7 linked regions of the Homo sapiens genome follow. The protein of the gene in region 6 purifies or fractionates together with the protein of the main gene of each other region. This does not show direct contact. Each region holds a gene or a part of one and is shown on either strand. Other genes may lie near its edges.

Evidence for each region.
Region 1: the proteins of DUSP8 (region 6) and FBXO11 purify together in Homo sapiens (affinity purification with mass spectrometry, with the first as the bait; one large-scale study listed by BioGRID). This does not show direct contact.
Region 2: the proteins of DUSP8 (region 6) and PTGES3 purify together in Homo sapiens (affinity purification with mass spectrometry, with the first as the bait; one large-scale study listed by BioGRID). This does not show direct contact.
Region 3: the proteins of DUSP8 (region 6) and OXR1 purify together in Homo sapiens (affinity purification with mass spectrometry, with the first as the bait; one large-scale study listed by BioGRID). This does not show direct contact.
Region 4: the proteins of DUSP8 (region 6) and COPZ1 purify together in Homo sapiens (affinity purification with mass spectrometry, with the first as the bait; one large-scale study listed by BioGRID). This does not show direct contact.
Region 5: the proteins of DUSP8 (region 6) and SUGT1 purify together in Homo sapiens (affinity purification with mass spectrometry, with the first as the bait; one large-scale study listed by BioGRID). This does not show direct contact.
Region 7: the proteins of DUSP8 (region 6) and NDUFAF4 purify together in Homo sapiens (affinity purification with mass spectrometry, with the first as the bait; one large-scale study listed by BioGRID). This does not show direct contact.

The regions. Positions count from the first base shown.
Region 1 is NC_000002.12:47,826,202-47,830,591, forward strand, and holds part of FBXO11 (F-box only protein 11), read right to left. Parts: intron 1-4,390. UniProt on the Homo sapiens protein: Substrate recognition component of a SCF (SKP1-CUL1-F-box protein) E3 ubiquitin-protein ligase complex which mediates the ubiquitination and subsequent proteasomal degradation of target proteins, such as DTL/CDT2, BCL6, SNAI1 and PRDM1/BLIMP1.
Region 2 is NC_000012.12:56,667,491-56,671,880, forward strand, and holds part of PTGES3 (prostaglandin E synthase 3), read right to left. Parts: intron 4,358-4,390; coding exon 4,259-4,357; intron 2,875-4,258; coding exon 2,785-2,874; intron 1-2,784. UniProt on the Homo sapiens protein: Cytosolic prostaglandin synthase that catalyzes the oxidoreduction of prostaglandin endoperoxide H2 (PGH2) to prostaglandin E2 (PGE2).
Region 3 is NC_000008.11:106,734,585-106,738,974, reverse strand, and holds part of OXR1 (oxidation resistance protein 1), read right to left. Parts: intron 1,456-4,390; coding exon 1,375-1,455; intron 1-1,374. UniProt on the Homo sapiens protein: May be involved in protection from oxidative damage.
Region 4 is NC_000012.12:54,345,520-54,349,909, forward strand, and holds part of COPZ1 (coatomer subunit zeta-1), read left to right. Parts: intron 1-2,247; coding exon 2,248-2,325; intron 2,326-2,480; coding exon 2,481-2,532; intron 2,533-4,100; coding exon 4,101-4,139; intron 4,140-4,390. UniProt on the Homo sapiens protein: The coatomer is a cytosolic protein complex that binds to dilysine motifs and reversibly associates with Golgi non-clathrin-coated vesicles, which further mediate biosynthetic protein transport from the ER, via the Golgi up to the trans Golgi network.
Region 5 is NC_000013.11:52,676,485-52,680,874, reverse strand, and holds part of SUGT1 (protein SGT1 homolog), read right to left. Parts: intron 902-4,390; coding exon 720-901; intron 1-719. UniProt on the Homo sapiens protein: May play a role in ubiquitination and subsequent proteasomal degradation of target proteins.
Region 6 is NC_000011.10:1,558,395-1,562,784, reverse strand, and holds part of DUSP8 (dual specificity protein phosphatase 8), read left to right. Parts: intron 1-3,729; coding exon 3,730-3,896; intron 3,897-4,390. UniProt on the Homo sapiens protein: Has phosphatase activity with synthetic phosphatase substrates and negatively regulates mitogen-activated protein kinase activity, presumably by catalysing their dephosphorylation.
Region 7 is NC_000006.12:96,891,460-96,895,387, forward strand, and holds part of NDUFAF4 (NADH dehydrogenase [ubiquinone] 1 alpha subcomplex assembly factor 4), read right to left. Parts: intron 1-3,928. UniProt on the Homo sapiens protein: Involved in the assembly of mitochondrial NADH:ubiquinone oxidoreductase complex (complex I). May be involved in cell proliferation and survival of hormone-dependent tumor cells. May be a regulator of breast tumor cell invasion.

The sequences.
Region 1 (4,390 bases), on a different chromosome or scaffold from region 6:
GTGCCGCCACCATGCCCAGCTAATTTTTTGTATTTTTAGTAGAGACAGGGTTTCACCATGTCAGCCAGGATGGTCTCGATCTCCTAACCTCGTGATCCACCCGCCTCGGCCTCCCAAAGTGCTGGGATTACAGGTGTGAGCCACCGCGCCCAGCTGATCCACAAGTTTTTTAAGGCAAATAGCAGCCCTCTCCCTCATTTCCTTTATCCAGAGGGCCCCACTTTTAATTCTTTTAGCTGATTCTTTTGATTCACATCTATTTTATTAAGTAACTCACTGTACTTAGTCTTCACTTTCCAGTTTTAGGTATTATCCACTGACTTCTATTATGGGACAGCAGAATTTAGCTCTCCTACCTCTCTATCCCCCACAATATATACTCACACATTGTATCCTTTCAGTGTAGTTTAACCTTAATTTTGGTTAGATTAGTGTGCTATTCAGAGTTGAGCCATAAAATATGACTTCTTTGCTGCACAATTTTTTGGATTTTTTTCTCCTTTGCTTAGCTTTCTAGTGACAACTCTATCCTAAACTTGTTGCTAGTTGTCCAAATCACCTCTTCTTTTTATTTATTTTTTTGACACAGAGTCTCACTCTGTTGCCCAGGATGGAGTGCAGTGGCCCAATCTTGGCTCACTGCAACCTCTGCCTCCCAAGTTCAAGCGATTCTCCTGCATCATCTCCTATAAATCACCTCTTAATACATTTACATTTACATTAGGTTTACCAATTTATCTTTCTGAACAGCTTTATTGGAGCTTTAACCTGCTCCAATCTGGTTGGCTGCCCTGGTCACAGGCATGCAGTCATTTACCACATTGTATTAATAAATTAGGTTAAGGATTAAATATGTCACCTAATTCCATCAAATATGGAGTTTATAATCTGTATCTTTTGTTTCAGAGTAACTTTCAAGAAAATAAAGCAGCAAAAAGTTTTCTTTTCTCAACGACCTTAAAATGAGAAGCCTCTACATTGGCACAACAATGATTTTACTACCTTTAGAAATGACAAAGATTGATTGACTTATAGTTTTATAATTTTGCAAGAAAACTTATTTTTATTATGGATTCAGTTAATGTAATTTTGCTTCAAGATTTTTTTGTTTGTTTGTTTTTGTTTTTGAGACAGAGTGTCTGTCGCCCAGGCTGGAGCGCAGTGGCGCACTTTCGGCTCACTGCAACCTCTACCTCCTGGGTTCAAGTGATTCTCCTGCCTCAGCCTCCCGAGGAGCTGGGACTTTTGGTGTGAGCCACCACGCCCAGCTAATTTTTGTATTTTTAGTAGAGATGGGGTTTCACTATGTTGGCCAGGATGGTCTGGAACTCCTGACCTCAAGTGATCTGCTCGCCTCGGCTTCCCGAAGTGCTGGGATTATAGGCATGAGCCACTGAACCCGGCCTGCTTCAAGACGTATTTTAATAGAATGCAACTATTTTGTTAAGCAATACCTCTAGTACAAAATAAATCAATAATACAGAACTGTAAGAAATTAGATTTTTTTTTTTTTTTGAGGTGGAGTTTCACTGTCTCCTAGGCTGGAGCGCAGTGGTATGATCTTGGTTCATTGCAACCTCCAAATCCCAGGTTCAAGCAATTTTCGTGCCTCAGCCTCCAAAGTAGCTGGGATTACAGGTGGGTGCCACCATGCCCAGCTAATTATTGTATTTTTAGTAGAGACGGGGTTTTGCCAAGTTAGCCAGGCTGGTCTCGAACTCCTGGCCTCAAGTGATCCACCTGCCTCAGCCTCCCAAAGTGCTGCGATTACAGAGCTACCAAGCCCGGCTGAAAAAAATTTTTTAAGAAGACGGGAATCTCCCTGTCACCCAAGCTGGAGCTATCACAGGTCATTACAACCTTGAACTTCTGGGCTCAATCAATCCTCTTGCCTCAGCCTTCCAAGTAGCTAGGATTATAGGCGTGTGCCACCATGCCCAGCTAATTTTTAGAATATTTCTTTAGTAGAGATAGGGTCTGTCTTGCTCAGGTTGATCTTGAACTCCTGGGTTCATGCAGTCCTCCTGCCTCAACCTCCCGAAGTGCTGGGATTACAGGTGTGAGCCACTGTGCCCAGCCTCTGCTTTGTCTTTTAATGCAAACCACAAAAGTTCCAACATGTATAAATTTTTTGAAGTAAAACATTCTTTATTAAATATGACAAAGTAGGCCAGGCGCGGTGGAGCTCTTGAAGTCAGGAGTTCTAGACCAGCCTGGCCAACATGGTAAAACCCTGTCTGTACTAAAAACACAAAAGTTAGCTGTGCGTGCTGGCAGGCATCTGTACTCCCACCTACTCGGGAGACTGAGACACAAGAATTGCTTGAAGCCTGGAAGGTGGAGGTTGCAGTGAGCCGCGATTGCACCACTGCACTCCAGCCTGGGTGACAGAGTGAGACTCTTGTCTCAAAAAAAAAAAAAAGACAAAATAAAAGGCATTCAAGAGTTTCACAAGAAACTCTCCAGATTAAAAAAGAGAGAAAAATGCTATCTTCATAGAAATAAACTTCCACAACTCTAATCTATAAAAACACTTACCAAATACTGTGAAATCTGGGTAAGAAAGAGGAGGGTGCTGGGAACTAACCAATGTTAGTACCTTAGACTTTCAATGAAGTGTAGTTGTCCCCAAGTAACTAAAGGCTATAATAAGCTTAGCTTATTATTATCTTCTAACTAAAGTGATGAAATCTAATGGCATGAATATGCCATGAATTTTTTTATTTTTTTGACAGAGTCTCACTCCTCTGTCGCCCAGGCTGGAGTGCAGTGGCATGATCTTGGGTCACTGCAACCTCCACCTCCCACCTCCCCACTTCAAGTGATTCTCATGCCTCAACCTCCTGAGAGGCTGGGATTACAGGCACACGCCACCACGAGGCAGTGTTTCGCAGTGTTGGCCAGGCTGGTCTTGAACTCCTGGGCTCAAGGGATCTGCCTACCTTGTCCTCCCAAAGTGTTAGGATTACAGGCGTGACCCACTGCACCCGGCCTCAAAAAATTTTATAGTTATTTGGCACTGCTATGACATTTTATTTATTTATTTATTTATTTTTTGAGACAGAGTCTTGCTCTGTCGCCCAGGCTGGAGTGCAGTGGCGCGATCTCGGCTCACTGCAACCTCTGCCTCCTGGATTCAAGCGATTCTCTTGCCTTAGCCTCTCGAGTAGCTGGGACTTGAGGCGTGCACCAACACACCCGGCTAATTTATGTATTTCTAGTAGAGACAGGGTTTCACCATGTTGGCCAGGCTGTTCTCGAATTCCTGACCTCAGGTGATCTGCCTGCTCGGCCTCCCAAAGTGCTAGGATTATAGGCATGAGCCACCACACCTGGCCTGCTATGACATTTTAATCTTATTTTACAAAAGTAACAACTCTGCACTGAACTGAGTATTAAACAAACAAAAGACAATTGGAGAACTGTGAACATTAAGAGAAAATTTGATGATATTAAGGAATTATTCCTAATTATTGAGGAGTGGATTAGCACTGTGGTTATGTGAAAGAAAAAAAAAACACCCATCTTTTAAAGACACATGGTAAAATATTTACAAGAGATGATGAAGTCTGGTATTTACTTCAAAATAATCCAGAGTGTAAAAAAGGTAGTAAAACGTATGAGGTATACATTAAACAAAATTGGCCATGAAATGATAGTTGTTGAAGGCAGACAATAGGTACCTGGAGAGTCATTACACTATTCTCTCTACTTCAGTGTACGTTAGAAATATTTCATTAAAAAAATGTAAAAATTAAAGGCAACACCCACACTGGAAGCAAAATAGCAGCAGAAAAACAAAACCACGGAGACATGGTAAGGAACACAGATTTGAGGAACTCACACAACACTAAACAGAACAGAACATAGCAATATAAATAACCAGAAAGATAGCTAAGTTTCTAAAGAAAGGAACATATGGAACAGAAAAATAGTAAAACAATACATCAGCAAAAGCCAAAATATGGATACTGAGGTAGAAGAGCAATCTTTCAAGCAAAGAAGAAAGAAAAAAACCCAATGTGATCTCAGAGTTCTCAGCCATGCTCAATGCTACAATAGAAAAATGTCTACAGAATCGTGAGGGAAAGAAAGAAACTCAGCTAAGTTAAAAGGCAATGGATAGGGATTCTCGCATGGCAAGAATTCAAGCTACAATATCCATAAGGCGTTCTTTAAAAAAAACAAACAAAAAATGGCTGGATGACAAAACCTAGCCATACCAAGAATGAATCAAAATTTAAATTCAAGAATGGAGAAACGATGATAAAAGAACTAATGATAAATAAATAAAGAATAAATATAGACCAATAACTGTAGGAATGCAAATATTTTAAACCTTTGCAAAATAAAAATAAAAATGATGGGGTGGAGATAGATTGAAATACTT
Region 2 (4,390 bases), on a different chromosome or scaffold from region 6:
GAAAAAAATCTGCCTTATGTGACAAAACACAATGAAGAATCTGAAGCACGTCATGCTATGTGAAATAAGCCAGTCACAGGACAAATACTGCATGATTCCACTTATATGAGATACCTAAGATTATGTAAGATACCTAAGATAGTCAGACACACAAAAATAGAGAGTAGAATGGTAGATGCCAGGAGCTGGGGGGAAGGAAAATGCAGAGTTGCTACTGTTAAATAGGTATCAAATTCCAATTACACAAAATGCATAGTTCCAGAGACCTACTACTGTACAGCATTATGCCTATAGTTAACAATACTGTATCATGCACTTAAAAGATAGCTGGGCGTGGCCAGGTCTGGTGACTCATGCCTGTAATCCCAGAACTTTGGGAGGCCAAGGCGGGTGGATCACCTGAGGTCAGGAGTTCGAGGCTAGCCTGCCCAACATGGTGAAACCCTGTCTCCACTAAAAATACAAAAATTAGCCGGGCATGGTGGTGGGCACCCGTAATCCCAGCTACTTGGGAGGCTGAGGCAGGAGAATTGCTTGAACCCAGGAGGTGGAGGCTGGAGTGAGCCAAGATCGTGCCATTGCACTACATCCTGGGCAACAAGAGCAAAACTCTGCCTCAAAAAAATAAATAAATAGTCTGTTAAAAGAGTAGATTTCATGTGAAGTGCTCTTACCTCAATTAATTAAACACACACAAAAAAGGATTCAGTATAAAAATTTTGGGCAATCTATCTTGAATGAAATGAGTAACTGGGAGTTTCCCTACCTCCAAAAGCACTACTCAATACTTTAAGTTTCTTTGGGCAGGAAAAATGCTAAATGTACCAAGCATAACGCTACGTGCTTAAGATAAACAGCAAGAGAAAACTGTACATATTCAAGAGATATGTAAGAGATAACAACAAAAACTGGACAACAAAGATAGCAAAATAAAACAAAAAACAAAAAACAAAAACAGTGTTATAAGGCTGGGGGTGGTGGCTCAGGCCTGTAGTCCCAGCACTTTGGGAAGCTGAGGCAGGAGGATCACTTGAGCTCAGGAGTTCAAGACCTGCCTAAGCAACACAATGGCTTGCACAGCTAGGTAAATGGTGGCACCGATTTCTACAGGTAAGGAAAGTACAATTAAAAAATAATATGAATAGAACATCCTCCCTTCCTGTTGAAATCACCATGCCAGAGTCACGTGTGGAGAACTGTTAAATAAGCAGTTGCATAAAGCTGGAAACTTAGCTCCTTTTATTTAACTCTTAAGGTCTCAAAATACAAAATCTAGTTAATGAAAAATTTCAAATAGCAACAAGAAATGGATTTCATCAGTATGCATTCGACTTATACACTAATGTTCTTTCTGTACTTAGTTTTATTCTACTACATTTGATAAAGTCTATTCTGCCTATATAGAGATGAATCATTTATTCTTGGGCCATGGCAACGTTATTTGGGTGACATCTTAGAAAACAGACTTTCTTAAACTTTTTTCCTTGTATATCTCATGGTAAACATTTCACCATGAATTTTTTTTTTTTTTTTTTTGGAGACAGAGTCTTGCTCTGTCGCCCAGGCTGGAGTGCAGTGGTGTGATCTCGGCTCACTGCAACCTCTACCTCCTGGGTTCAAGCAATTCTCCTGCCTTAGCCTCCGGAGTAGCTGGGATTACAGGCGTGCACTACCACGCCTAGCTATTTTTTTGTAGTTTTATTTAATTATTTATTAATTTAGAGACGGCGTTTTGCTCTTGTTGCCCAGACTGGAGTGCAATAGCGATCTCGGCTCACCGCAACCTCCACCTCCCGGGTTCAAGTGATTTTCCTGCCTCGGCCTCCCGAGTAGCTGGAATCACAGGCATGCACCACTACGCCCAGCTAATTTTGTTCACGCCTTCTGGGTTCACGCGATTCTCCTGCCTCAGCCTTCTGAGTAGCTGAGATTACAGGCGCCCGCCACTGCACCCGGCTAATTTTTGTATTTTAGTAGAGACGGGGTTTCACCATGTTGGTCAGGCTGGTCTTGAACTCCTGACCTCAGGTGATCCGCCCATCTCAGCCTCCCAAAGTGCTGGGATTACAGGCGTGAGCCACCGCGCCCAGCCTATGATTCTTGTGTTTAACAGTTTATCGTTCTGCATTTATTTATTTATTTGACCGAGTCCCGCTCTTTCGCCAGGCTGGAGTCCAGTGGCACGATCTCGGCTCACTGCATCCTCTGCCTCCAGCGTTCAAGCAATTCCCGTTTCAGCCTCAGGAGTAGGTGGGACCACAGGTGCGCGCCACCATGCCCAGCTAATTTTTTTTGTATTTTAGTAGAGATGAGGTTTCACCAAGTTGGCCCGTATGATCTAGATCTCCTGACCTCGTGATCTGCCAGCCTTGGCCTCCCAAAGTGCTGGGATTACAGGTGTGAGCACCGTGCCCGGCCAAAAGTTTATAGTCTTATTTTATGACTTCAAAATCCAAGTCAACTACTGCAATCATGCTTTAAAAAAAAAAAAAAAAAAAGTCCCAATGATGAAATTAGCAAACTAGCTGTGTTAGTTTGTCTTAATGCATTAACTTTTGTAACTTTTGTAGCTAACACTAATTCCTTTTAAAATCATTAAAATGGTTCAACTTCAGGATTAAAATTGCCATTGTTAACATCTATTTACTATGACTGCAAAATGGTCTTAAAAATAAAATAACATGCATCATGAATACCATTAGGTGCCCAAAACCATATTAAATTGACTACATAGACAGGTACCGTGTGCTTCGAATGGGGAGAGGTCCATTTAAAGGAACTTACCTCAGAGAAACGATCAAAATTAGACATGTCTTCATCTGAATCATCTTCCCAGTCTTTCCAATTATTGAAGTCGACACTAAGCCAATTAAGCTATAAATCAATACAAATATCACCCTAAGATTAGGCTAATTTGCATTTGGCATGAACCTTAAGACTACGTTTTCTTTTCTTCTAAAGAGACCAGGTCTTGCTATGTTGCCCAGGCTGGAGTGCAGCAAGCATTCACAGGTGCAATCCCACTATTGATCAATATGTGAGTTTTGACCAGCTCCGTTTCTGACCAAGGGTCTTGTTTACCCTCTTCAGGCAACCTGGTGGTCCCCGCTTCCTGGGACAACACCGTACTGATGTTAACTTAGCGTGGTTACCTGACATATGGCAATGCAACCCAGACTTGGGCGCAAGTATTTCTCCCACTTCACCCTCCAGAGTAGCTTTTAACTACAACAGGCACATGCTACTGGTGCCTGGCAAAACAATATTTTTTGAACTGTGACTTTGTATTTTTAGGAGGGCATGTAATTAGCACACAAAGAATAGACTAAGCTAAATGAGGTGGCTCACACCTGTAACCCCAACACTTTGGGTGGCCAAGGTGGAAAGACTAGTTGTGTAATCCTTCAGGAGTTCGAGACAGCCTGAGCAATAGTGGATCCTGTATCTGGGGAAAAAACAAAAAAACAAATTTCCTGGGCGTGGTGGCACATTCCTACAATCCTAGCTATTTGGAGAGGTGAGGTGGGTGGGAGGATCGCTTAAGCCCAGGTGGAGGCTACAGTGAGCCATGTTCACACCAGTGCACTCTGGCATGAGTGGCATGAGACTACCTAAAAAAAAAGACTAGGCTGGTGTCGTGGCTCATGCCTGTAGTCCCAGCACTTTGGGAGGCTGAGGTGGGGAGACTGCTTGAGCCCAGAAGTTCAAGACCAAGCTGGGCAACACTGTGATACCCCTTTCTACAAAAAATACAAAAATTAGCCAGGTGTTGTGGCATGCCCCTACAGTCCCAGCTACTTGGGGGACTGAGGAGGGAGGATCACTTGGAGCCTGGGAAACTGAGGCTGCAGTGAGCCAAGATCGTGCCACTGCACTCCAGCCTGGGTGACAAAGAGAGACCCTGTTTTGGGGGAAAAAAAACACTGAAAATTGTTAAACATACCTTTTGAAAACAAATTTACTAGTAAGAACTATTTTCAGTTGATTATTTTTTCACCAAGCTTTGTCCCCTCCCATGTGATAGCTGAGTAATTTATGCAAAGTCTGTCTCTTAAGTACAAAAGATTCTACACCAGTTAATAACTGATATTCTGATCACACTTCGTATTAAAACTGAGTAGACAAAAAACATGAACATGAGGCTTTATACTTAGCTGTGAAACAAAAACACAGCCATATTCCTTACATCAAATAAGTACATCTTTTATTACCTAAAATAAAAATATCAAACTTTTCAAAAAAGGAAAATGAAACCTACCTTTGCCCTTTCTTTTGTTAACCTTGGCCATGACTGGCCAGATTCTCCTTTTCGTAAACAACATAAAATTGATCTGTCCGTTCTTTTATGCTTGGAATCCTAAAAACAAAAGGACCATCATACCATTTATCT
Region 3 (4,390 bases), on a different chromosome or scaffold from region 6:
ATAAAAAAAAATAACTATTTTCTGTGAGTTGTGCATGTATTTGTTTCACTGACAAACGTTACCATTTTTTTAAATGCTTTCTTTTTATAACTTTCTAAACATTTAATTTTTTTCATCTACTTGGACCAAACAATAAATTTTACTGTTAATTTGTTCATAAATTTATTTTTTAAATTAGATTAATGTGTTGCATTACAAAGAATACATGCTTTTTTGCTTGGTGGAAATGATTTCACTGGTATTCTTAAAACGATAAGAATGTTAACTAAGTAAAAATAAAGCTTACTACTGCACAATATATTCTATTGGTGCTTACTTTTTAATATTAATTTTATTTTAATATATAAAACATAATAATATTAGAAAATAAAAGAAATGAAACATTATGAAACTTTTAAATTGGAAAATATGCAGAATTCTATTGGAGCAGATAACTAAAATGCAGCAACGCTCAGCAACTGTGATTCTATATGGGAATGAAATTCTTGCTAAATTATTTTGTTCCTTTAACAGGTTTCTTAACAAACCTGAGCAGCATATATTTGCAACCAATACATGTTCTATAAGTGTATTGTTTTTTGACAAGAAGCTAAATACTCATTCTTTCATATCATCATGTTTCACCCTTATTTTGATGATGTGAAAGGTAAAAAGAAAAAGAAAAAGAAACCCAAGGCAGCATTAGAAGCATTAAAAGAAAAAATTCAGGTCTAGCAGAGCCATGAAAGCATATCTTATTAAGAAGAAAGAAACACAGTATAATAGACACAACTTAAAAATGAGTTTTCAATTACATTGCTTTCTTGTTTCTAAAAAAAAAATCACAAAGATTATTTCACAGAATTTTAAGTAATTTATCCAGTTCTGTGTCTAAACTGTACTATTCCAATGTACTCCTAATACCAACCAAGAATGCCTCAAGAACAGTTTATCCTATTGAGATATTTGATGTGACGCTGATATAAATGAAATAGCCTTAAATAAAATATTTAAGCCTTGCTATTAAATTTTTTATTAGTTTTCCTATAGTACCATATCTTTCAGATTTTGTTTAGAAAAGATTCAATCTCAAAACCAACACCATTCTTCCAACGTTAAATGAATGAAAACTCCTCATCGCTGAAAGAAACACACAATACTGAGAATAATTCTGAAGTGACAGAACATTCTTCAGAATATTTTTCAAATGAAAAGATGACAGAAAAGATAATCCACAGCTCTTCACGGCAATACTATAACCTTTAATACAAAAAGGAATTTAATTTTAGTGCTGCAGTCAAAGCAAATTCTTCAAATGAGATTTGCCATGACAAAGAACACTAAAAACAGGGAGTATTTAGTCTCTGGAGGGGTTTAAACTACTGAAGGGGGCACCTGGAGGCGTCTGCAGAGTGTGCGCAGTTCTTCAGTATTTAGAGCATCGATCCTGCGGTGATACTCAGCCACTGACACTACCTAAATATGGAGACAGGAAGACAATAATTCCACTGACAGTTGAGAAAAACAGCAAAAAAAAAAAAAAAAAAAAAAAAAAGAGGAGAAATTAAAATGGGAAGAGAACTGTAATTAGGATTTCTTCCCCACTCTATGTTGAAAATCCAAGAGATTTATATATCAAACTAGAGTGAAATATCCATGAATGATTTTCACTACTACATCCAACTAGTTGGTATGTAAGGTTTATTTTATGGACTATTCCATATAGATTCAACTTAGTAAATAGAAATTATAGTTTTTTATACAGAAAACACTATATAAAACACATACTTTGCTAACATTAAAGATAACGTCTGAAAACTAAACGGTCTTGCAGTTACAAAGGAAGTGGTAGTTTCAACTACCCCCTCCAAATCAGGTGAGCTCAAACATTATATCCTAATGGCCATGCTGGAAGAATTTCTTCTAGGCACAGGTGACAAACATACCCATCTATAACAGAAACAACAGAGGAGAGAAGAGCAAGAAAACAATATAGAAGTACATTTTAAAACCTATGGCAATAAGAAAAATAAGCTCTAGAAAGTAGAAAATTAGATTTTCAAAAGTATGTCTAATCAAAAGTACCTTCTAAGTATGTCTGCTTCAGCCCTTTAAATGACTTTTTTTTTCCACTTTTTGCCTCTCTCCTGTTTTATTTCTTTATGGTTTTTACTGTATCATTTATTTGTGACTAAAATTTAACAACTTTCCTACATTTTAACTTTCAAAGGAAAACTTTCTATCTTCTATAATTGCCTAGACCAGGCTCTTGCACAGTATTAAATTTGAAAGCCATAAATGACAGATAAACACTATTACAGAAAGCCCACAAAAACAGGTAAGTTTCCTCAGGTTGACATAATAGTTACAGCTTTTTCAGATCATGACATAATTCTAAAAACAGTTACCATACTACAGTGAACGCTAATGGTGTGATAAATATGTGACGATTCTCTTGAGCTATGACTAGTTCCTCTTGTAATCAATCAAAAATGCACAGAGGCTCTGACCACAAAATGAGTTAATCCAACTGGCTCATAAAGAGTTTAGATTTTGAACCTAGGTTTTAAAGGCTTTTTATTTAGCCAACTAAAAGGAACTGGCTACCAGTAAACATTAAGGTAACTATGAAAAGCTATGTAAACTTGTTGAAAGTTCTGAAAGACATGAGAATAGAAAAAAGGAAAAGAGGCTGGACAGATTTCCATTCTGGCCATTATTATTATATTGAATTTTGTGAAGCAACAAAGCATACAATATGTTAGCTGACTCTGTACTTAGAAACCAGAAGCTGTTATTCTCTCTAGCTCTGGGGGCGGATGGGGGGGGGTGTCAGATAAACCTGGGTTCCCCATTGCCTATCAATTTTGTTATAAAACAATGAAAATAGTAAAAGTGCATATCAAATCTGGTTTTATGTGAATTACTGAGGAAATGCATATTAAGGACTGAGTATAGTGCCCAGAACATATTAATGAGAACTACTATTATTCATATGACTTTTACTTGATTACTTTTCACCAATTACCCTGGAGACTAAATGATAATGGCCAAAGAGCCTCCTTATTAATTTTTGGTTTTTATTTTTGAATGAGAATATTTCAGGTTTGACATCTCAACTATTTTTAACATTTTGATTATTCTGAATTTAATTTTTATATTTCAGTATTAGATAAAAATAATGAAGGACTTTCAATTAAGAACAATAGGATTTCAATAAAGATAAAAGAAAAATTAGGTACTAAAAATAAAAAACATCATGGGCTTGCTTTTCTATGCCCAGCAAAACAGGTCTCTAGAAATATTTAATGGCCAATTATATTTTTCTTTCTTTTTTCATGGCCTTCAATCCAATAGTCTCCTAGACAAGGATTGTCAAAAATAACTTATCTAATTCTCTGCTTTCCTTCTATCCCTCCAGTTAACAATTATCTTATATCTATATTCTAAAACTCCTTCATTTACTATAAGAAAAACACTTCCTGGGTGGAAGTGAAATTAAATTATGCTTACAAAAGAGATCAGTCATAACCTAATTGTATCAGCATTGCTGAGAGTAGGAGTTACTAATAAGAGAACAATAAATCGCCATAAGGCTAAGCTTATCTTAATAACACTTGATAAAGTCATAGTTTCTTTCATGTCACAAATCTACTCTTTCAAATTTATTTTTTTCAATTATATTTTTTTCTAGGACTTAAAAACTTTCTGCTTCCTTAACCTTAAACATTTACTCATGCCCTGATGGGTGAGGATACAGAAAACTGTAAGAAAAAAAAAAAAGTCTGTGAGTTAATAGAAAAAAGAGATTTGAATTTGAGTACAGAAATATACTTCCTTCTCTCAAAATAAAGGGATAAAAGAGCTATATATTCCCAGTATATATGAGGAAACTGGAATTACTCTTACATTAATTTTAAACCCTTGGTAAACCATACTCCATGTATACAATTTATTACTTTACCCAAAAGATTAAACCTAAATAAAAAATGAATACATTTCTCCAAAATATCCCTTATCACGCTCTGAATTATTAGGAGTAAACAGTTGAGAAAACCAAGACCTTCCAATTAAAAGTGCATTCACTGGCTAAAAAATCGTTTCTTAAGGAATAAAGTATTTGGATATACTGCTAACTCCTATCTATAGGAACTAAGTACCATGACCTATACTCTGCAGAATTAAATGCCACTCTCTAGTCTTTTCAGTCTTTGACAAAGGACCCTCACAAAGAGAAAGTATTTTCCTAAGCCTTTACTTCTACAGAATTACCAATGGAAAGGCAGGGGTAAATCCACCCATCACTATTACAAATGGACTAACAAAAACAGAGACTAGAGAAAATTCACAGTTGCTGCCAATCCCATGATTAAGAACACGTTCATCTCTTAGATATAAAGAACAATACCTT
Region 4 (4,390 bases), on a different chromosome or scaffold from region 6:
GCAGGACATTCTTTTTTTTCCCCTCAAGTTATGATGGAAAGAGCAGGGCATTGTTGATTTCTTTTTGGGAGATAAAGTAACCATTCTTCAGGCCCAGGGATTGTAGGGGATTGGCAAAGGCTCCAGGGAGTTGATTTAGTTTTAGAAGTTGGGTTTTGCCGGGCTCAGTGGCTCACGTTCGTAATCCCAGTACTTTGGGAGGCCAAGGCGGGCGGATCATGAGGTCAGGAGATTGAGACCATCCTGGTTAACATGGGGAAACCCTGTCTCCACTAAAAATACAAAAAATTAGCCGGGCATGGTAGCGGGCGCCTGTAGTCCCAGGTGCTTGGGAGGCTGAGGCAGGCGAATGGCATGAACCTGGGAGGCGGAGCTTGCAGTGAGCCGAGATCGCGCCACTGCACTCCAGCCTTGGCGACAGAGTGAGACTCTGTCTCAAAAAAAAAAAAAAAAGTTGGGTTTATTAATTCACAGTAATTCATGCTACTGGGGAGGACTGGATGGAGAGTATGTCCCTCCCATAGAATAATTCTCTTACTAAGTAAGGGGACTGGGAGGGAGCCGAATCTTTACCTCTGTGTTTACTCTTGTAATCCCCTGTGGTCCTGTCAGATCTGAGCATCCTCAAGGTGCTTTCCTGGGCTTCATTCTTGACATTAGAAGTAGGGAAAGGCCAAGCATAAGGAAGTGTCCCAGATGAAATGTCATTCAGTACTTCAGGAATGGAAGCAACACTCCCAATTTTTTTTTCTTTTTTTTTTTTTTTGAGATGGAGTCTCACTCTGTCACCCAGGCTGGAGTGCAGTGGCGTGATCTCGGCTCACTGCAACCTCTGCCTCCCAGGTTCAAGCGATTCTCCTGCCTCAGCCTCCCGAGTAGAGTAGCTGCAATTATAGGCACGTGCCACCACGCCTGGCTAATTTTTGTATTTTTAGTGGAGACAGGGTTTTACCATGTTGGCCAGGCTGGTCTTGAACTCCTGACCTCAAATGATCCACCTACCTTGGCCTCCCAAAGTGCTGGGATTATAGGCATGAGCCACTTAGACCAGTTTTTTTTTGACTTCTAGTCCTTGTTTTTTCCCTTCTGTAGAACAGGAAGCACCCAGGCAGGAGGACTGCATGAGTCGAGTTCAAGACAAGCTTGGGCAACACAGTGAGACCCTGTCTCTGCAAAAAATAAAAAAATTAGCCAGGTGTGGTGGTGCATACCTGTAGTCTCAGCTACTTGGGAGGCTGAGGTAGGAAGATTGCTTGAGCCCAGGAGGTTGAGGCTGCAGTGAGCTGTGATCATGCTACTGCACTCCAGCCTAGGTGACATAGCAAGACCCTGTCTCAAAAAACAAAACAAAACAAAAAACAGGAAGCTTCTGCCATTTACCCTCTCCTCCCTTTCCACCTTCCCACTAGCCCTCTGTTCTCTGTTACCCGTGTAGATGGGTAATAGAAGAGATATAAGTTACTTTTCCTGAAAACATCCAGGGCTCTGAACTTCATTCCCCCAGCAGCTCCCAAGTGAACCCAGTACAGACAGCCATCCAGACCAGAACAGCAGGCACTCTCAGCCCTGCAAAATCAGCAGGGTGAATGGCTCAGATTTCCTCAGGAAGGGGATGATTTATTTCTTATCCAGGTGAATGAATAGTAATTCATTCGGGTAATCTAGTGAAAGACTCAAACTGACAGATGTGACAGGCCACATGCACCAACCAACGGATCTGAGGCTGGTGTATGCAGACCCTGCCCCCTCTTTGGGCTTCTTTTCAGGGCCTGAGCAGAGCTGGTAAGGGATAGGGAGAAGAGGGAACAGAGAATGTCTCAGGAGGTTTGTCAGAGCTTGAGTACAAATAAGGTTTGCATTGAACCCCTCTCACCTCCGGCCACCTCCAGACTGAGTCTTAGCTCTGTTTATATTGTTTTTTTCCACCCACTGATGTCAGTGTTTATGAGCAATGTTATGAGCAGCATCATGGCAGGTAGGAAAGAAATAATAGCGTGGATAATCAACCCCTGAATAGTCAGAAATTGACTGTGTTATTTGAATCTCTTTCCATACATTCCTTATTCAGCAAACGAGTAGAAAGGGGTTTTGAGTGAACTAGCTAAAAAGTTCTTCACCTTATTTACTTCTTTGTGTGGTTGGTGGAGATGTTTATTGGTCTAGTTTAGGTTCCTCAATTGAGACAAGGTCCTAGGATTTCTTTCACATACAAGTTGGTTATTCTCTTCTCTTCTCTTGGGGACTCAGGAAAAATGTAGAAAAGCGAGCACTGCTGGAGAACATGGAGGGGCTGTTCTTGGCTGTGGATGAAATTGTAGATGGAGGGTAAGTTCTCTGACCTGCCTTGATCTTGGGTGAGGTGGCGGGATAACTGCCCCTGTCCTAAGTCAAGCAGGCTCAGTGGCCAGAGGTCCTGTTCCCCGACAGTGAGTTGGGCCTTCGGGACAGAGTGAACAATGATCTCTTCTTTGTTTTTGCAGGGTGATCCTAGAGAGTGATCCCCAGCAGGTGGTACACCGGGTGGCATTAAGGGTAAGCAAGAATGTGTTTCTTTGCATCCCCGCATCTATTCACAAACACCCTCCAGAGCCAGACCTGCTGGATGTGTCCAGTAGTTGGGGCTCATAGGATACATACAACCTTCTCTTTTTCTTTCAAATACATTCAGCCTTTCTCTTCCCTTCTCTTCTTATTGTCCCAAAGAAAGAAGCAGAAATAACTTATTTCTACCCCTAATATGGTGCCTAACATCTCATACAGTCTTTGCACAAAGTGGACATTTAATACATACTTATTTAATAAATGATAAAATAAACTTTAATATTTATGGTTTTGAAATTATAAAGCAACTTGAAGTTGGCTTATTCCCTTCTTGGAGATGGATCCAGTCATCTGAGGCAGAGGAGTGTCTGTTTTGTCTTTTAAAGTGTTACATAGGACTGAGCGTGGTGGCTCACACCTGTAATCCCAGCACTTTGGGAAGCCGAGGCTGGCGGATCACAAGGTCAGGAGTTCGAGACCAGCCTGACCAACATGGTGAAACCCTGTCTCTACTAAAGACACAAAAATTAGCTGGGCATGGTGGTGCGTGCCTGTGATCCCAGCTACTCAGGAGGCTAAGGCAGGAGAATTGCTTGAGCCCGGGAGGTGGAGGTTGCAGTGAGCCGAGATTGCACCACTGCACTCCAGCCTGGGCGACAGAGTGAGACTCTGTCTCAAAAAAAATAAATAAATAAAATAATAATAATAAAGTGTTACATAACTGAGGATGGTACCTCTCCATTAGGAAGTACTTATTTGCCAGAACCTCAGTCCTCTTTGGTGCTGGTGATATCAGAAAGGGGCCTCTGAGTTAACCATAGAAGGCCCCAGGTCAGCTGAGGAGATAATGGTGGATGCAGAGAGAGCCCACCAACAAATTATACGGGTGCAAAGATGTCTGAGCAAAGCAAATCTCCCCATTCACAGAATGTCCTGGCTCTGACCTCCACAGAGTGAAGGCTGACAGTGCTTGGTAATGGGAAATCTCTCTTAACTGCTGTGGGCTCCATTTGCATAGTTTAATCTTCTCCTCTAACATATGTCTCTGTGTGGCAAGAGAGAGGGTCCCCCCCATCAACTCCCCGCTTTGTCTTCTTAGGCTGCTGTTGCAGCAGTTTATTTCTTCAAATTAACATGCTGTCGTTACCCATCAGGCTTTGCGGGATCCATTAAACCACTCCTGGCTCCCCCTCATCCTTTCCCTAGTGATACTGATATTCAGAAAAGGCCTTTTCTGACTAGGGAATCAGGTCCTCCACCCCCACGTTAAGGGAGTTGAGGATCAGATAACCTGCTGGTTACTCTGAATGGAGTTAAATCTTTTAAGAAGTCCTCCTGCCTTAAAATGGAAGCTGGATGAAATGACCCTTTTTTGTTCATAGTCCCTCTGGCCAAGTAAAATTGTAGCTGTACTAGTCCCTAGAAGGGACTGAGAAGTTCAGTGCATCTGCCCTTTGTTTCAGTTTAAAGGATCACTTTTTTCTTCTCTAATACCAGACTCCAATCAGGTCTTACTCCAGCTTTCTCCCACACTAAATGCTTGTATCTCTGTGCCATAGGGTGAAGATGTCCCCCTTACGGAGCAGACCGTGTCTCAGGTATGACTCTCCCTTCTTCCTTTCCAGATGGACTGGGTCACTAAAGAGGCTAGAACAGCATTCCACCCATACCTCTCAAATCTGAGTGAAACTAGAGACTCAAGACACATCTTCCTTGGCTCCCTCTTATTCCAGAGAACTGGGACTCATACAGCCAGCCACTCCCTACCCCTACTTCCAACTCCTTTCTCAGTTACCTGTGAGCAGTGGCTGTCAGCCTTGCTCTGTACCCTTCAAACCCTCCCTGCCTG
Region 5 (4,390 bases), on a different chromosome or scaffold from region 6:
GTGAGACCTTGTCTCTAAATAAATAAACTGTGAAAAGCACAATCATGACCAATTACCACAGATTTCTTAAGTGTGAAATACCTAAGCCTCAACCACATTAACTAAATATTAAATTAAAATACTAATTTTAACTTTCTACTGTAAATATGTCTTAAAAGAGTCATATTTCCAGAGCTACTGGTATTAATAAAAGTCACATGATTACAACTGCAAGCTAAATATACAATGACGAATTATTACTAAAATTTTGAGGTCTAATTTAGGTATTTATGCTGCCCTGACAAAAAGCCTGAATTTTCTTAATCAAGAGAGTTGTTAAACCAATGAATAACGTGCACCTTCTACTTGCAAACACTATTCTGAAAAGTTTCGTATCTATATTCTTCATCTCTAACACTGAGGCTACATATGAGTCTAGAAGGGAAACAACAGAAGTTCACTCAGCTACTGGGATAAATCCAAGTGAGATGACTCCATATCAATCTAACTCACTGATAAAAAATACCTATTTAAGATAAACCACTTGTTTCTCATCTCTTCCATAAGTTTTCAACTTCCTCAAAAATTACTCTTAGAGCAAAAAGAAACGTTCAGACAGACCTTATTCAAAAAGTTCTCCCAGCTATAGTACACGCAATTTGGTCTCACATTACCAATTTTCTCGTTTAAAATATGTAAAATTTGCTCCCATATATATTTCTTTAAGTTTATATTCTTACAAAGGATTTGTTCATGGCACGTTTCACTTCATCAGAACCATCTGAATAGATCTGCTGAAATAATCTGTTTAAAGCTGCATCTCCCTCCAACTTTTCATTCTTTTCTTCTTCTTTGATCTCACCAACCAATTTATCCCAATTTCTTGTATAAGGAGATGATGATGGATATAGGTTCTTTACATCTATGAAGTAAAAAAAGGCAGAAGTAATTAATCAACATGTTTCAATTATGTCGAGAATATGTAAACTTTGTGACCATGTATATGGAACATCTTAGCAAACAGTTTAGGTTACTGAATTTCAGGTATGCAATAAGTGTCTTTCTGGTATATAGGTCAATAACAAAATTCACATTTCTAAAAACTGAGTCAGTTACCATAATGTAAAATCTGGGGATTTCTTTTGAGCAAAATAACTCAATAAAGTGTAAACTTTTGATATGCTATACAAAATTAGATTAAAAGCAGATTCTTCATGTTGATAACAGAAACTAGATGAAAAGTATACAGAACTTTTATGTTTTCAGAAAAGTTGCAGAGACAGTACGAACAATTCTAAAAATGAAATTTTTTAAAGGATGCCTAAGAAATCTTTTGTAACTAAGATTTTAATAAATGTTAAAAATGTGACTTTTTCTAAAGTACTTAGTATCTTTCAGAGTATAAATAGCCTGAAAATATAAATAATCATCCATGCCACTCCATACTCTCCCATCAAAAAAGTAAGATTATTTTAATAGGCAATAACAGTAAGTAATTTCTAAATGTTTAAAGTACTACACTTGATGATCTAAAGTTCAATGCCCACATCCCATACACCTAGCAAATAATAGTATTTGTAGGGCACACTGGAGTAAACAGAGCTGCTTGCAGCGAGAGAGGCTACTGGCCCAGGGGCTCGGGGTACTGCCAAGATTGCTCCAAAGACCAAAGGCATCAAGATCTTGGCACACAAATAATTAGAAAATAACTAGACAACCTAGTAGCTATAGGAGCAGCTCTGTTGACTATCCAATGAAAATATAATGACAGCCTCAAATGTGAGTCACATATATAATTTAAAACTTCCTAGTAACTACATTACTAAAAAGAATCAGGTGAAATGCAGTTTAATAATACATTTTATTTAACCTGATATATCAAATATAGTATCATATTGACTTGAAACCAACAGAGGCCGGGCATGGGGGCTCACACCTATAATCCCAGCACTTTGGGAGGCCAAGTAGGAGGATTGCTTGAGGCCAGAAGTGTGAGACCAGCCTGGGCAACATAGTGAGAGCCCATCTCTATGAAAAAAAAATAATAATAATTAGCTGGGCGTGGTGGCACATGCCTGCAGTACCAGCTACTCGGAAGGTTGGGGTAGAGGACTGCTTGAGTCCAGGAGGTTGAGGCTACACTGAGCCATGACAGTGCCACTGCATTCCAGCCTGGGTGACACAGCAAGACTCTCTCTTAAAAAAAAAAAAAAACCAACAAAAAAAATGAAGATATTTTATATTCTTTTTTTCATACTAACTCTTCAAACTGTAGCATATATTTCACATAGCACATCATCTCAATGCAGACTAGTCATATTTCAAGTGCTCAACAGGTAACATGTGGCTAGCAGCTACTGTGTTGGACAAAAGAGCTACAGTTTTCAAAAAACCCAATTCAAAATTTCCCCATCAGTATGTATTAGGACACATTAGTACTAATCTAAATGTTCCTCCCAATACTGCTCTCTACATCCCTTTTGTCAAAATAGCTGAGAAACTAACATCCACTGTTTTTCTACGCTTTCTCTTCACTTGTAAACCGACTTTCTCCCTGCCCATTCCTCCTCAAAACAAAACAACACACACAACACCAACACATAGTTTTTTTTCAGGGCCAAATATATTGTTTTGAAAATCCTATCCACCTTCCTTCTACTAGATATCCTTCTATCTTTGTACATTTTCACTAGTAGCCAGGTAAAACAAAAAATGCGTGCCATGGTAAGTTAAGAGCCTGGGAAATATGGATTTAATTAATCCTAATGCTGACTCCCAGGAAGGATGAGAACAGAGGTTTTAATCTCTATTTTGTAGATAAGCAAGCTGGGTCAGATAGGTTAAGTGACTTGCCCTTATCTACAGTCTCCAGCTTGCAATACACAGGAATCTGACAAGTATATTAATTTCTTACAAAAACAGGACAGGAAGAGTATCATCTTGAATATCTAAGGTGTTGAGTTTAGAAAAAACATGGTAACTGTAACACTAAAAAGCCTTGATCTTTAATCTCAGAAAAACTTTTAACACCTGGAGATGGCAGATGAACTACTGAGAGATGAGTAATCTAACCTCCCTGCTCATTCACTATAATATCAAATAACTACTAGATACTCATGTCGGCAAAGACTGTTTCCATTGTTAGAAAATGCAACAACAAGCAGTATGCAACAAGTAGACAACGGGTTAACAGAATAACTGGACCCAACTGAGAAGACCTAGATTTTAGTCCTAGACAATGAGAACTGAGGGATAATCTTGAGCTTAACTTTTCTGAGCCTGCAAAATGGGAGGAATACTAAGGGGCTGCCTGTTATGCAGGGCTGTTAGAATTAAGTAAGATACTACATTTAAAGTGATTATATATTTTTTAAAGCTTTCAGCTACATATAAACCTCAGCCTCAAAATCTATTGGAGTCAGTCCTAAAAGAAACACATACATCTTTCAAATAAAGTGTGAAGCAGATGCTTAAATACCTTAAATACCAACTAGATATACTTCAGTCCTTAAAAAGTATCTGTTGGTGTTAATACCCTGATTTTGAAAATTATACCACAGACTACTTAAGAGGTAATCATTGGACTAGTTAAGACACTATCAATGGGGGAAACTGGGTGAAAGCTATATGAGAATCTCTTATTTTTGAAATTTCTAAACATCCAAAATTATTTCTTAAGAAATAACTATACACACACACACAAACACACACACAAATGATCTGTTGAATAACTCAGTGTTTTCTAAAAGGTGCCACAAGGAAATGTGTTTTCTGTTACAGAAGAAAGCAGTCAAAATCAGAAAAAGCTGAGACACATGTTAGCTTGTTTCAGTCATTAAATCAGACCATTACTTCCAATAAAAAGAAATTTCCCTCCACTCATTAATGAAGCTATTGCTATAAAATATAATCTTAGGTTGTAGTTCTGAGTGTGCTGTGAATTTGTCCACTAGAAAAATTCTTACCTAGTTATTGCACATACTTAAAATTGACCTCAACACAAAGTTCTGTTTCTTACAGGGTTATATATACAATGAAGCCTGGTTTTCTACTCTTCTCCTAGACTTTCCTTTGGCATTTACCACCTATTTGCGTCCATCTCTAAATTAGCAATAAGAAATGGGGTAGATACCTTACCCTGTAAAGCCCTGCAAATTCCAGGCAATTAGATGACAGTATCAGTAGAAGGAACAGAAAGGAATTAAGAAAGGGAGAGGGAAGAAGGGGAAATATATCCGCCGAGTAAACCAACTTACAACCCAAAAAGAAACAACAGGAAGGGCCAACACGCAAAACTAAACACCCTCCAACTGATGTCATAAACTTTACATGGTAAACAATAAATCCCAACTCCCTCTAGGATTTTGCTGCCATTCATTTGTATTCTTAGAATTTGAGAAGTCAGAACTTT
Region 6 (4,390 bases):
GTGCGTCTGTGCATGGCTCTGGGCGTCTGGTGACCAGCATCTGCCTCTGCGAGTGTGTACGTGAGCATGTGTGTGCATGTATGTGTGTGTGTGCATGTGCATGCATGTATGTGTGTGCATGTACATGTGTGCATGTATGGGCATATGCATGCCTGTGTGTGCGCATATGTGCATGTACGTGTGTGCACGTGTATATGCATGTATATACATGGAGGTATATTTGTGTATGTACCCGCCTGTGCTTGTCTGGGTGAGATTTGGGATTTGTGTGCATATGTGTGAACTCTCAGAACCAGAAGCCACAGAATGACGCACTCTGATCCAACCCTGTTCCCCTAGGTCCAGTTTGAGGACTGAACTGGTGGGGGGCGGGGAGAGAGTAGTTTGGGGCTTTTTACAGCTCACCAGGTGTAACAGGACCCCTCCCAAAGGCCAGTTTGCTGCCCTAGCCAGGAATGGGAGTCAGGAGACTCTTCTTGGAGGCTGAGAAAGGTCCCAGAGTGGCACCTCCCTACCTGCAGGCAGATCCCAGGAAAGTCCCAAGCCTGGAAGGGCCTGTCTCCCTCGAGGCCAGAGTGGGACGGTTTGGGGGGCTGGGGCCCTCACCCAGCACTGGTGGGTGGGACAGCATGGGTGTGCAGGTGGGCGTGGATGAGTATGGGCATGGGAGGGGCCGGGCCTGTGCTAGGATTTGCCAGGAGGGCACTCCCAGGGCCTGGTCATGCCACCCTCAGAACTGCCTTTCTGTGCTGACATCTGCCCTGCAAGGTTGAGGCTGTGTCCCCTTTTCTCCAGAAGTGCAGCTGCCAAGGAGTCCCAGGCCCCGTGGTATACAGTGGGCTCATGGCGACACCCAGGCAGGCCCACGGGCTCTGCCCTCAGGCTCCCTCCCACCCTGTGGTGGGCACAGCCCCTGCTCTGGGCTGGCTCTGCGAAGAACCAGGGAGAGTGGGAAAGAATATATTGGGGGGGGCAGGGGTGCTGCCCCTCACCCAGGAGAAGGGATGTTCCAGGATCCCGCGGCACAGGCAACACAGCTCCTTGGTCCATTTGCAGGGACAGTAGAGGCCGGAATGTGAGGACCAAGCCTCTGTCCTCCCCACAGCAGGGCAGGTTTGCGGGAAGCGGGAGAGAAACAGTGGCAGGACAGGCTGTGCTGGGGTCCCAGGACTGCTGTGAAGCCCACCTCCCCCTGCCGCTCCTCTTCCCCCACTCCAGCTGCGCTGCTCACGATGTTGGGGGGCAAGCGGCAAGGGATGAGAGAGGGGCCTGGCCCTTTAAGCAGCGGCCCGCAGTCGGCCTTGGACCCTTGGCCGGGCGACTGCACTGCAAGTGGGTGGGGTGGCGGCCCCCGCCCTGGCGGGGAGTCCAGGGGTCATGGAGGTGGCGGGCAGAAGTGCGTCTGTGACTGTGGCCATAAGCGCTTGCAGGGTCTCCCAGGTGGCATGGGGCAGGCACATGTCCTGGTACACACGCCTTTTTTCAAGTCTGGGATTTCACTGTGAGTAACAGGTGAACTGCAGGCGCTGCCCCAGAAACCCCCGAGTCAGGGAGCAGGGATACTGGGAAGGCGCCTTTGGAGATGCCTGGGGGTAGGGGTGCCTCCCCAGGGCCCAAAGAGTGCTGGGACCTACAAAGGGTCCACTGAACCCCAACACCCCTCACTTATCACTCACCCCCAGAGCCTGGGTGGTTCTGAAATCCCTGGAGCCTCGGTCCCTGCTAGGCCTGGCATCCACAGTGGGGTGTGTAGGGACATCCACACTACCTGCTCCGCCTGGGGAGGTCCTGGGAAGCTTCCTGGGGAATTGCTGACATAGCTGTCGGTTCTCTGCACCTGTCCAGAGACTTTCCTGCCTTTACCTCCTCTGGGAGAGGTGGGAGGGTACTGATGGAATCCCCAGCACCTCCTCCTTTGGCCAGGCCCTGGAGAAAGCAGAGAGTAAGGCACAAAATCCCTGGGAGAGCCACAGGGAGGAGGAGAGGCAGCAGGTGGCAGAAGAGTCTGCAGAGAAGTGGTGCAGCCCTTCCGCCTCCCCGGGGCTGTCCTGCAGCGGGAACATCCAGGGCTACCCCAGCTCAGAACAGTGAGTGGAAGCCAGCTACAGTGCCCATCCCAGCCTCTGCTCAGGGGAACCTGCAAGCTGGGGCGTCGTTGGTGACAAGTCACCTACCTGCTTTCCCCTGTCCAGTCAGCAGGTTCCCACAGAAGAGACTGTTCCTCCAAGGCTGCTGCCTCAACCCACCCAGCCTGGAGCTTCCCCTATCTCCACAGTCCCCCAGCGTCACGCCCTTTTTAGGGACACGGGGAGCTGGCACAGCAGGTGTTCTGGTTGGGGGTTTGCACACACTCCCCTGTCCTCAGGAGTTATCCAGGGTGGCTCTACTCCACCCAGCAGGGGAGAATGGAGAGAGGAGGAGCCCTAGGCACTGGGGGCACGCGGGGCAGGCAGTGGGCACCTGCTACACATGTGGCACCAGCCTCTTCTGCAAACCAGGACAAAAAAGAGCCCTGGGGTTCCCAGGCCCTGAGCTCCCGCCGTCACTCCCCTGCCCCGTCCAATGGGATAGGGCAGGCCTCAGCCCAGCTGCCTCAGGCTCTGCACAAGCAGGAGCCGGCTTGCCATGGGGGCTTATGTTCTGGAAGGTGTCCTCGGGGTGGTGCTGGGCCATGCTGGCTTCACCCTCCCAAGAGCTGGCAGCCACCAGGTGGGTGCTGCCCAGTTTCTGGTCCACATCGGTGGTCGCCCCAGCCAGGTCAGGGACGGCCAGGTCCATTCTCACCATGTGTCTTCGTGCTCATTATCTTCTTGGAACCACATGATGCTGTGTGGCAGGCAGGAGGAGGAAGCTGAGACCAGAGCCATGGTGTGCACTACCCATGGTCACTGAGTCAGACATCCAGGGATTCACGTTCGGGTCCTTCCAGCTGGTGCAGGGCAGGGGACTTCCTCCCACCAGCCTGTGGCCTCGGACTTGGACGTGTGTGGAAGGCAGCAGCACACGCTGGTCACGTGTGCAGCGGGTGCCCACTGCCTGCTCTGCGTGCCCCCAGTGCCCCGGGCTTCTCCACTCTCCGTCCTCCCCTGCTGGGTGGAGTACAGCCATAACCAGACAGCAAATGCCCCGAGGGCTGTGCCAGGGTGATGTCATGCCTGGGGACGGGGAGGGCCTCTCGGAAGCCCTGGCCTCCTGGTCCTGGCACCCAAGCCCAGGCCTGGGGCTCCCAGCCAGCTGGAGGCAGGGAGGCATTGCATCAGTGCAGGGGAGGAGGAAGGCCCAGCCTGGCCCCAGGCCATGGGTATGGGAGATGGCCGGGCTCGTGAGGGCCTCTCCTCTGGGCTGTGTGACACACACCCTCAGCAGGAGACCCCTGTGGCCTCTGAGCCCACCCCTGCCTGGGCCCAGCGCGTGCCGTGATGGCCAGCCACCTCAACGCCACCTTTACGGGCATCCTAGCGGCGTCCTCAGCTGGGTCAGCCCCTAATTAGCATGAGGAGGAATGTGGGCGTAGGTGCAGGCTGTAAATGTGTGGCAGTACCCCCTCCCCCCACCGCGGGCAGAGCAGGTGCTCCGCCAGAGGCTTGCCGGCTGGGCTCAGGCTCGGGTCTGGGCTGGGTGTGACTGATCCTCAGCAGTAGATGGGGTGCCCTAGGCGGACAGGGCACCCTAGGCGGACAGGGAGCCCTAGGTGTTCTCTCAACCCACTTGACGGCCCTCCTCCTACAGGGGGCTTCGCCACCTTCTCCTCCTGCTTCCCCGGCCTCTGCGAGGGCAAGCCTGCTGCCCTGCTACCCATGAGCCTCTCCCAGCCCTGCCTGCCTGTGCCCAGCGTGGGCCTGACCCGCATCCTGCCTCACCTCTACCTGGGCTCGCAGAAGGACGTCCTAAACAAGGTGTGTGTGCAGTGGAGTTCGGGGGGTGGTCAATGGGAAAGGGGCAGGAGCTCCAGAAGCAGCTTGGCAGCGGAGCGGGGGATGAGGGAGGAAAGGAGCTGAAGGCAGTGGATGAGCTGGGTGTGGGAGAAGCATGGGTGGGGGCCCAGGAGGACCCCAGGCTCCCCACCCATGCCCCTGGAAGGACCACAGCAGGGCTTGCGGGAGGGCCCGGCAGGGCTCGGGGGAGGAGCGGGGAGCTGGCATGCCAAGCTGCGGATGTCACTGGGCCTCTGGCCAGCTCTGAAAGAATCCCATGTTTTAAAAATGGTGACGAGGGAAAAGGGTAAAAGCCACCACCCAGGCAATCATAAAATTCCTAGGAGCCCACCACCAGCCGTGGGTGGGGCCTGCAGTCGGAGGCCAGCCGTGCCCCACCCCCCGCACGGGCCCAGGGTGCCAGGGTGGACCAGAGAGGCCTCCTGGGCCCTCCCCTGGATACACTGGGATCTGGG
Region 7 (3,928 bases), on a different chromosome or scaffold from region 6:
TCTACACTATTCCTCTTCAAATAACAACTAATATGGTTTGGATCTGTGTCCCCACCCAAATCTCATGTCACCAAATTGTAGTCCCCAAAGTTGGACGTAGGGCATGGTGGAAAGTGACTAGATCATGGGAGTGGATTTCCCTCTTTGGTGCTATTCTCGTGATAGAGTTCTCACCAGATATGGTTGTTTAAAAGTGTGTAGCACCTCCCCCACACCCCGCTTCTGCTTGCTCTGGCAATATAAGCCGTGCCTGCTTCCCATTCCACCATGATTATAAGTTTCCTGAGGCCTCCCCAGAAGCAGAAGCTGCTATCCTTCCTGTATGGCCTGCAGAATCGTGAGCCAATTAAACATCTTTTCTTTATAAACTACCCAGTCTCATGTATTTCTTTACATCAGTGCAAGAATGGATTAACACAAATTCTATATACGATTTTCCAAACTTCATTTTCTTATTATAATGAGCCATAGTTTAATAGTACTTTTGCCACATTGCCTTTTCATAACTATAGCTCTATCATTAAGAAATGTAGGCATCTCTAGAAAATAATAATCAAATGTATACCATCCACTCACCACATTATTTCACGTGTTTTAAAAGAACAATGAAAATAATTTATTAAAAACTGCACCTGTTTTAAAAGGGCAGGATTCTGATGCCACCCTAACAGCTGGCTTGATAACATCTATTCTGTTTCCCAGCTTTGTATTTCATACTCAGTACTCCCAAACACCTTGAATGAATTGAAATATTGCTAGTGATCTTTCTCCCGAGAAAATAAACTAACGCCTCCAATACACTCCAGTATAAATAAAACAACCTATGCACACCCATCCTTCCATCTATCTGTCCCATCCCAGCTTAATCCCAGCACGTGTGCTCTGCATTCCATTCTTGTTTCCTAGCTATGCCTATCATTCTTTCTTTTCTTTTCCTTTTTTTACTGCACTGTGCCTACTGCTGCTTTTTGGTCAAATATAGAAATGCTATAGTTACTATGTTTTTTAACATGCCCACCAAACCCAAAACCAACACCTCTTTTATGACCAGTTTCCTTCTCTTCAGGTAATGTTTAAAAGAAATAATGCTTGCTATCTCTAATGACTGCCTAGTTGCTTAATTCAGAGGACACTTTTTAGACCTCATTTGAACTCACTATAGTATCTCACTACATCTGACACTGCTGACCACTCCAATGTACTTATAACTATCTTCCCCCTTGGTTTCCATGCCACCCCCTCACAGTTTTCCATCGGTTTTTTCAGTGGGTCCTTCGGGGTTTTATTCATGGACCCTTTTCCTTTTGCTTACCCTTAAATGTCAGTGTGTGACATTTAAGAGTGCCCAGGCCTTCTTCTCACTCTACACATTCTTCCAAAGTAATCCCACACACTCCTCTAACTTCCATTACTGCCTACAAGTTAATTACTTCCAAAGCTGTGATCGTAAACCAAGACCTTTTCTTGATTTCCCAACCCAAATGCTTAACAGGTATCTCCACTTAAATGACCTACATGCTCCTCAAATTCAATATTATCTGAAACTAAACCTATCACCAGTTCTACTCCCATATCCTCAATTTCAATGACCAACACTACCTACCTCTCATGCCAAAAATGAGATTATACTTGCACCTCCCTCTCCCTTACTCATTACACCAATCAATGACCAAATCCTGTTGACACTGCATCATATGTCTCTCTCAAACTCACTCACATCTCCCCCATACTACTAAATCACCCTAGTCCAAGCCAATGTCTCTTGCAGAAATGACTGCAAATACCTCCTATTTGGTCTCTTCTAATTAGATAAAATGCACTTTGTTCCCCCGCCAGGCTACTTTCAAATCTAACATCACTTTTGACCATTAACTCTTTAATGACTTCCCATTGTCTTCAGAATAAAACAAAACTCCTTAGCAAGAAAAATAAGGGCCTTTACGATCTGACCCCTATCACTCTCCATCCCAACTCACTTCTCCCAAATTCACATTTCACATTTTCTCATAACTGCAGTGAACTCTAACCATTCTTCAAAGGCATCACACACTCTTGTATCTTTATATTGCAAACTAGGCCTGAAACACTCTTCTCAACTTTTTCACTTTCCAAATCTCAAAGCTATTTTCCTATTCCCAGGTAAGGTAGATCTTCCTTCCACTCCAAGCACATCTGTATTCAGATTTCCTTTCTAATTAATAGTCAATACTAAAATAAATAATTATTTGACACAAAAAAATCTAAGAAGATTCAAAATCCTCTCGACTGAAAAAAAAAAAACCCTTAGGAAATTAAAAATAGAAGAAAATGTCCCAAACGTGATATAAGTATTTTTTAATCGAAAACAAGTATCATTCTATTATAATTAATGCTGAAACACTTGAGACATCCTGTGGAAGGAAGGAACAGATGAGAATGCCTACTTTCACTGGCATGTTAATGTATACAACACAATAAAAGAATGAAGTAAAAATACTAGAAAGAGAAGTTTTTAATTCTACATAGATATATCTTTAGAAAAGAGAATCAACTGAAAACCTAACAGAAATAATAACCTAGCAATGTGGGTAGCTACACTATAAAAACCACTCACTTTCTGATATATAGTAGTACCTGGCTTTATCTACAGTTACCTGAAGTCAACTACAGACCAAAAATATTAAATGAAAAACTCCAGAAGTAAACAATCCATAAGGTTCAAACTGCAAACCATTCTGAGCAGCATAATGAATTCTTACGCTATCCATTCCATCCTGTCTAGGATGTGAATCCTCCCTTTGTCCAGTGTATCCATGCTGTACAGGCTACCTGCCTGTTAGTCACTTAGTAGCCATTCTGGTTATCAGACTGTGTGGCATCACTGTGCTTGTGTCCAAGTAACCCTTACTTTACCAAGAATAGCCCCAAAGCACAAGGGTAGTGATGCTGGCAACTCAGTTATGCCAAAGAGAAGCCATAAAGTGCTTCCTTCAAGTGAAAAGGTAAAAGTTATTGACTTAATGAGGAAAAAAAATCATATGGCGAGAGTGCTAACATGGATAATAAGAATGAATCTTCGAACCCTGAAATTGTTGTAACTGTTCCATTTTATTAGTTGTTAATTAAACTTTATCATAGTATATATTTATAGGAAAAAGCAGTATATATAGGGTTCAGTACTACGCTCAGTTTCAGGCATCTACTGAGGGTCTTGGAACCTATCTGCTGATTAGGGAAGACTACTGTAGCAGCAATAAACAGTTTAAATTTAAAGTGAAAAAAGCTCCCATCACAGTAACAACGTTCCCTTTACCACTCAAAGACTTAATAATTAAAATGTTAATTCTCCTCAAATTAATCCATAAATTCCCATTCAATTATACTCAAAATCCAAATAGGACTTATTAAAGAACCTGACAATTTCATTCTCAAATTCATCTGGAAAAATATTAATGTGTGAAAAGAGACCAGAAACTTTTTAAAAGAATGAGAGAAGACTATAAGAAATATCAACACACATTATAAAGCTCTATTAATTAAAACTATGGTTCTAGTGTATAAATAGAAAAATAAGTAAAACTGATGAGTCCATAAATAGACCCATATGTGTATCTAGAGATGCATTTTAAGTAAGTGGAGAAAGGTCTGGGCTCTTCAACAAATTATATTTACACAACAAGCCATCTGTTTGAAAAGAGGTTCAACTGATCTATTCCACACATCAAAGACCACATTTAATGCCAGATAAAGATTTTAATATAAAATGTAGTTATAAAACTACTGGAAGAAAATACAGAAGAGTTTATATGATGGTAGAGTGGGCCCAGTATTCCTTTACCACAAAAGGCAAAAAGACTGAAATATTTGACAGAATTTTGAATAAATATGTTAAAAAGTCAGACAACAAATAAATTATTTGCCATATGAAAGGCACAGTATCAATGATGTC